2 linked regions of the Homo sapiens genome follow. The gene in region 1 interacts genetically with each later gene. Each region holds a gene or a part of one and is shown on either strand. Other genes may lie near its edges. The genes, in order: GMPS and ACY1.

The links.
Region 2: changes in GMPS (region 1) and ACY1 together harm fitness more than expected from each alone (negative genetic interaction), as found in Homo sapiens cells (one large-scale study listed by BioGRID).

The regions. Positions count from the first base shown.
Region 1 is NC_000003.12:155,912,144-155,915,958, reverse strand, and holds part of GMPS (GMP synthase [glutamine-hydrolyzing]), read right to left. Parts: intron 1,541-3,815; coding exon 1,389-1,540; intron 1-1,388. UniProt on the Homo sapiens protein: Catalyzes the conversion of xanthine monophosphate (XMP) to GMP in the presence of glutamine and ATP through an adenyl-XMP intermediate.
Region 2 is NC_000003.12:51,986,264-51,989,741, reverse strand, and holds the end of ACY1 (aminoacylase-1), read right to left. Parts: coding exon 3,411-3,478; intron 3,328-3,410; coding exon 3,238-3,327; intron 3,138-3,237; coding exon 3,081-3,137; intron 2,755-3,080; coding exon 2,681-2,754; intron 2,596-2,680; coding exon 2,546-2,595; intron 2,434-2,545; coding exon 2,289-2,433; intron 2,187-2,288; coding exon 2,118-2,186; intron 1,219-2,117; coding exon 1,139-1,218; intron 977-1,138; coding exon 916-976; intron 832-915; coding exon 667-831; 3' UTR 545-666; downstream 1-544. Other genes in the region: ABHD14A-ACY1 readthrough (NMD candidate), read right to left, coding at 667-831, 916-976, 1,139-1,218, 2,118-2,186, 2,289-2,433, 2,546-2,595, 2,681-2,754, 3,081-3,137 and 2 more. UniProt on the Homo sapiens protein: Catalyzes the hydrolysis of N-acetylated amino acids to acetate and free amino acids.

The sequences.
Region 1 (3,815 bases):
TATACTTTCAGCTAAATCTCTTAGAGTCCTTTAGAAATACTGATCAGAAAATAAAATCCACCAATCTCCAAAATAAACTCCTTAATGAACATGTCCTCTAACACGATTCAAAAAGGTACATGAGGCCAAACACAGTGGCTCACGCCTGTAATCCCAGCACTTTGGGAGGCTGAGTGGGGTGGATCACTTGAGGCCAGGAGTTCGAGACCAGCCTGGCCAACATGATGAAACACCATCTCTACTAAATATACAAAATTAGTGGCCAGGTGTGGTGGCTCACGCCTGTAATCCCAGCACTTTGGGAGGCAAGGCAGGCAGATCACAAGGTCAGGAGTTTGAGACCAGCCTGACTAACATGGTGAAACCCCGTCTCTACTAAAAATACAAAAACTAGCCGGGCATGGTGGCACACGCCTGTAATCCCAGCTACTCAGGAAGTTGAGGCAGGAGAATCGCTTGAACCCTGGAGGCAAAGTTTGCAGTGAGCCAAGATTGCACCACTACACTCCAGCCTGGGCGGCAGAGTGAGACTCCATCTCAAAAAAAGAAAAAAATTAGCTGGGCATGGTGGTGCATGCCTGTAATCCCAGCTACTCGGGAGGCTGAGGCAGGAGAATCGCTTGAACCCAGCAGGTGAAAGTTGCCGTGAGCCAAGATCGCTCCATTGTACTCCAGCCTGAGTGACAAGAACAAAACTCCGCCTCCAAAAAAAAAAAAAAACAAAAACAAAGGTATGTGAACATTCCATTCAAGAGCTTGAAATTAGCCATTGAGATAATCAATGAATTAAAGTCTATGATAAGCTGAATACATCTACTCTTAAAGACATCTATTCTTAAAATAATAGCCTGGCAATGTAGGCAAACATGTTTATTAAAACATAAAACAGTTGGCTGGGCATAGTGGCTCACACCTGTAATCCCAGAAGTTCGGGAGGCTGAGGCGGGCGGATCATGAGGTCAGGAGATCCGGACCAACCTGGCCAACATGGTGAAACCCCCGTCTCTACTAAAAGTACAAAAATTAGCTGGGCATGATGGTGCACCCCTGTAGTCCCAGCTACTTAGGAGGCTGAGGCAGGAGAATCACTTGAACCCAGAAGGCAGAGGTTGCAGCGAGCCGAGATCGTGCAACTGCACTCCAGCCCAGCCTGGTGACACAGCAAGACTCTGTCTCAAAAAAACAAAAAAAAAACCAAACAACAACAAAAAAACATAAAACAGTTTCTACTGGTCAATATAATGACAATATACAATAAAACTCTCAGCCACATAAGAAAAAGGATTAAAATTAGCTAATTTGGTTATTTGATATAGTGACAAGGAAAAACAAATACTAAGATTCACATCAAAAATAGTACATGTTGAGGATATTAAAAACAAAGGTACCTTAACAAAAGTATCCCCAATGATTTTTCTTTTCTCTTCAGGACTTGTGGTCATATTTAACGTTTTGCTAATTCTTTTCCGTGGGGTTCTATCTTCATCTGATATTGGTAGGGTTGTTGTTCCATTGTAGAAAGAATGAGCAGCATTTATCACTGGAGGAAAGGGGAGAAGCGTTTTAAATTGGTATAACATGTTTTTTAATCAAAAATAACAAGTCAAAATACAGAAAGAAAAGCTATTTCTTTCCCAGTCTGAAGAGCAGTCCTTTGATCTCCCCTAAATCTGCCTACAAATTTCAATAAACTATCAATATTCAAGAATTATTGGCCGGGCCCGGTGGCTCATGCCTATAATCCCAGCACTTTGGGAGGCCGAGACAGGTGGATCACGAGGTCAGGAGATCAAGACCATCCTGGCTAACATGGTGAAATCCCATCACTACTAAAAATACAAAAAATTAGCTGGGTGTGGTGACGGGTGCCTGTAGTCCCAGCTACTTGGGAAGCCGAGGCAGGAGAATGGTGTGAACCCGGGAGGCGGAGCTTGCAGTGAGCAGAGATTGTGCCACTGCACTCCAGCCTGGGTGACAGAGAGAGACTCCATCCCCAAAAAAAAAATAAGAAAAGAAAAAGAACTATCAATAAATCCTGAGTAACAGAATTCAGATACAGGCACTCATTAAATTTTGTTTCTGTGAGAATCTCCTGGCATTTAGATCTAGGGCCATGACATCACAAATTATGCTGATTAGGGCCGGCACGGTGGCTCACACCTGTAATACCAGCACTTTGGGAGGCCAAGTTGGGTGGATCACTTGAGGTCAGCAGTGTGAGACCAGCCTGGCCAAAATGGCAAAACCACATCTCTACTAAAAACACAAAAATTAGTGGGGCGTAGTGGCACATGTCTGCAATCCCAGCTACTCAGAGGCTGAGGCAAGAGAATTGCTTAAACCTGGGAGGCAGAGGTTGCAGTGAGCCGAGGTTGTGCCACTGCATTCTGCCCTGGGCAACAGAACAAGACTCTGTCTCAAAAAAAAAAAAAAAATTTATGCTGATTGTTTTCCCTCTCTTCAGTGCTTCACCAGAGCAACAAGCAGAAGCCACAGCAAGAAGCTTAGCCCCAAAGAAGTCAAAAGCACCGGCTCCTAAACGGAGTCAAAGCTGTTGGAATCACACCCTAGTGTCTTGTAAAACTAATATTTATGAACATACATTTAACAATCCTTGGCTTTTTATTTAATGACAAGAAACTAAAAACTAAGATCTCTATTTGCTAATAAAACTTAGCTACTGGAGGCCTTCACCGTAAGATGACAAGGCAGCTGGCTATTTCATTGTGGAAAAGCCAGTGAATTTGTAGGTCTTTCCTGTACCTGGTCAACTACCCAGAGAAGACATATCTACTCTCCTGCCTATTGGCATTCTGGCAGTTAAACAGAGGAAGTGGTAGGAAGAGGGAATCACCATTCAGCATAGAGAATTTTACTTAATCCTGTTCTTAATGTAGAGTCTTACCTCCACCCTCAACTATGCCTGGTATTAGTAGGCTCAAGCCCAGAACCTCTCGTTTAGCCCCTCTAGAGAATACATCCACAGTGTTCTGATGGGGAAGGAGAGCACAGTTTGCTCCTGTGCTAAGGAAAAGGATCTGCTTCTCAGATTTTTAACTAATCCCTGTTTTAGGCTAACCCAGAGACCAATGTCCCAAAAAGAACCCAATGCTTCAAATTCCTGAGCCTCCCCAGAAGTCTACAGCACAAATCAGCTTGCTTTTTATTGGCTTCCTTCCCACCCCACCCCAAGGTTGTGAATTCCTCCATTCTGCTATGTCAGTTACCAGGGACAGATCCAAGTTTTACAATTTGAAGGACTCCTTCAAGAACCAGAATAACAAATAAGATACTAAAAATCTTAAGTTATACTGGGATGGCTAACAAGTACTTAACTATACACAGAAATAATTGCAAATCACATATATACCACTAAACCCATACTAAGCACATCCCCAGCTCATCTTTGTCTTAGCCTGATTTCAAAATGCCCACAGCTATTCCAGCACCACCTAACAGAAAACAAGTCAGAGTTGAAAGAAAATAAACAACTACAAATTATCAAAATATCTTGCAAATTTCACAAAAACCTATCACCATGTGAAGATACCATTGGGGACCTTCCCAGGATGTTGGGAGAGACCCCCCTAGCTTAAACAGAGAAAATCCACCTTTACCCATCTGCTTTCCACTTTCCAACACTTTATTGAAACCATCTGTCTTCTGTCATCTCCTCTATCCCACATCCTTAAGGTATTACACTGTTTTATGCTTTTACTGTTATTTTAGAGAAGTTTCAAAAAAATAGACTCATGTTCACATCATACTTACCTACAAGTCTTCATTTTATTCAGCCTTTTGGTATCAATTCCAAT
Region 2 (3,478 bases), about 100 Mb from region 1:
GGGGGTCCTAGCAAGGCTGAGATGAAAGCCCAGTTCCTGGGCCTCTGCACACACAGATCCAGGGTGCTGAGGCCTCTAAGATGAACTGACCTAGTCTACCAGGGACCCTGCCCCTCTGTGGCCCCTGCTGCCAACACAAGGGTGTACAGGTTTTGACAGGAGCCAGCAGTCACCGTTGGCCCTCTGCCTGCCCCTCATCTAGCAGGGGCCCAGCTGGTGCTATTCTGGTACTGTCTCAGGATCCCAGATGTACACCCAGGAAGATGGGAGTGGTTCCTGAGGTCCTTAGTATCCCTCTTTAATGGGAATGGAATCCCTGATAGGTCAGAACTAAGTATGGTGGCCACTCAAATAGGAACTGTGGCCCTTTCTTGCTAGGCACAGACATGGCTGGATGGTACTGAATGGGTGTGCTGTGTCAAGGGGCACAGAGCAGTGTGGGGTAGTGGGGAAGTGCTAACAGCCAGGCTCAGTTTCCTCATCTGTGAAATGGAGATGGTAACATGTCCCCAGGAAAAGGAAAATTCTTGCTCCACGAGTGTCCTTGTGTTAGTACTTCAGAGACAGCCCTGTCCATAGACTTTATTATTTGGAAGGGGGAAGAGGAGGTCCTTGGCACTGGTTGGGATGGAAGCCCCAGGGGCAAAGGTTTAGGAGTTCCAGGGCTCAGCTGTCACTGGGCAGGGCAGGCACACTGGCAAGGGCAGGCAGCAGGCGTGTATATATGTCCACCCCACGGAGGAACACAGCCTCATGCAGCCGTTCATCGTGGTCGTGCAGCAGCACAGGTGTGCGGTTCATGGGTGAGAAGCCTAGAGCTGGGACCCCCACCTGCAGGGGTGAGGAAGAGCCGTTAGGGAAAAGCCAGCACTCAGGCCCAGTCCACTGCCCAGGCACTATATGCAAGTGGCTCACCGCGCGGATATAGCGGTTGTCAGTGGCAGCAGGCATGATCTCAGGCTCCAGAGTGAGGTTCCTGTAGGAGAAAGAGCCTGATGAATGGGGAGGGAGAAAGCGAAGAATTGAAGGGGCAAAGGAAGGTGGGAAAGAGGTGGGAGAAGGAGGGAGAAGGGAGGGGGCAGCAGGAAGGAGAGGAGTAGGGGGCTGGGCTGTGAGGAGAGCTGGCCAGCGTGCTCACATATCCTTGCAGACCCGGCTAAAAGCTGCCCACCAAGGGTTTGAGTCATCAGTAGGTGTCACTTGGGGGTGCATCCACTTCTGAGGGACAGGAAGAATGGCAGGATCAGGACATGGGCCTGGGCATCTTGCCCTATTTCCCATAGAGTGGGCTGTGCCTAGTACATAACACCTCCCCACCCCCACTCCTTCACCTACCCAGACATCTGGGTAGCCAGTCCAGCCACAGGTCCTCTTTCAGCCCCTCAAATGTCCTAGGTCTGGGACCTTCCCACCCTCCGTCTACTTACCTCCTGTCCATCCTTCAGATCCTAGCCCAAGTGCCCCTTCCTCAAGATGGCTCCCCCAGACCTCTCAGACTAGTTGGATACTCCAGTTACAGGTTTTCAGAGTGCAAGGGGCCACCCTTTCCTGTACCACATGGGTTATATGAAAGTACGGCTGGGCGCAGTGGCTCATGCCTGTAATCCCAGCATTTTGCGAGGCCAAGGTGGGTGGATCACTTGAGGCCAGGAGTTCGAGACAAGCCTGGCCAACATGGTGAAACACTGTCTCTACTAAAAATGCAAAAATTAGCTGGGCGTGGTGGCAGGTGCCTGTAATCCCAACTACTCTGGAGGCTGAGGCACAAGAATTGCTTGAACCCGGGAGGCGGAGGTGAGCCGAGATTGTGCCACTGCACTGCAGCCTGGGTGACGGAGTGAGATTCTCTCAGAAAAAAGTAATATCACATAAATGTTTGATTTATATCTCCCCGTTTCACCATACAAGGGCATGAACTGTGCCTAATTTTACTCCCCACAGCATTCCCCAGCACCCACAGTGGCCTCTACAATGAATGCTTGTTGGAATAAAATGTGTCTGTCACAGATAAAGAAATGCCCAGACATATGCAGACACACCAAGCACACACTCCACTGTTGCACACTTGGGTCTCCCCCGGCTCCCACACTCTCCCATCACATGTCCCAAGTCCATACCTGAGCAAACTCTAGGGTGACCCCCTCGCCAGCTGCCTGGCACCAGCTCTGCAGCTGCTCCTCAAAAGCCTAAGAGAAGGGAGACGAGCTGATCCTTCAGGCTTTCCAGAGGCCTCTAGGACAAGACTGAGGACCCAGGATCCCTCCTCCAAACCCAGGTGGAGGTGGCACCTTGAAGTCCACATCCGGTGCCACACGGAAGTCAAAGCTGGCGCTCATGGTGGCAGGTATCACGTTATAGGCCACGCCACCCTCTAGCTTAGTCAGGTTCACGGAGGTCACGGACCCCTCTTTCAGGTGGGGGTTTGACTGCAGCCTGTGGTGTGGGGGCAGGGTAGCGGCAGCAACAGATAAAAGAGGTGGCTCAGACTCTATCCTCTGTGGTACCGCCTCCCAGAGCCACCCCACTGCCTCCCAGGCTGCCTCACCTCTGCCATTCCTTCTCCCGGAATGCCAGGATGGAGTTTACAACCTTGTGCTATGAGAATATGAGGTTAAATGGGACAGTGGCCTCAGGATAGAGCCTCCTGAACTCCCAGACTCCCTCCTGGGGTGCCACGTACCAGCTTCTCTGCTGCTGTGTCCTCCATGAAGCGTGAGGCATGGCCTGGCCTCCCAGTGCTGGTAACCCGCACCCCTGGGGAGGTGTAGGGGGAAGGCAGTGTCTTCAGCCTGAGGGGCTGGAGACACAATCAGCCTGGGGTGGGCCCAGGTCTCCCCCTCATTCCAGGCTCCTCTGGCAGGGTCCTGTCCCCACTCAGGGCCCGTAGCATACAGCTGGTTTCTGCCCATTCAGGGCTTGCCCTCAGAGAAGCTCAGATAGGAAAGAGCTGGGAGGTAGAGGCCCTGGGTTCAAGGCCTTCTCAGGCCTCAACTTTGCTGTGCAACCCTGCATAGGACCGTGCCCTTTCTGGCCTAGCCTCCCGCCTGTAGAGTGAGCCCTCCCTCCAAGCTCATACTTACACCAGGGACTCCGCTCACTATAAAAGACAGTGAAGGCATCAGTGGGATTGGCTATGCCTGAGGAGGGAAAGGGGGTTCAGAGGGTGGAGCAGCTCAGTCCCCACTAGCAGCCTCCTACTCCCTGCCTGGCTGCTCATTGGCTTGCCAACCTGCTCACCCTCATCCAGGGCAAAGCCTGCCCTCAGGGCGTGGAACTCAGGCCGCTGCACGAACAGCTCCATGCCTTGGTGACCCCCAACCTCCTCATCTGTAAAAGCAGCAGGGACGTGAGATGAGGAGGCTGCCCCGCCCCACCCTCCCCTTTCCCAAAGGTATCTGAGCCACTCCTACCAGGCACAAAGGTCATGTGGATGGTTCTGGGGAACCGGTGGCCCTCCACCTTCAGCCTCCTCACAGCT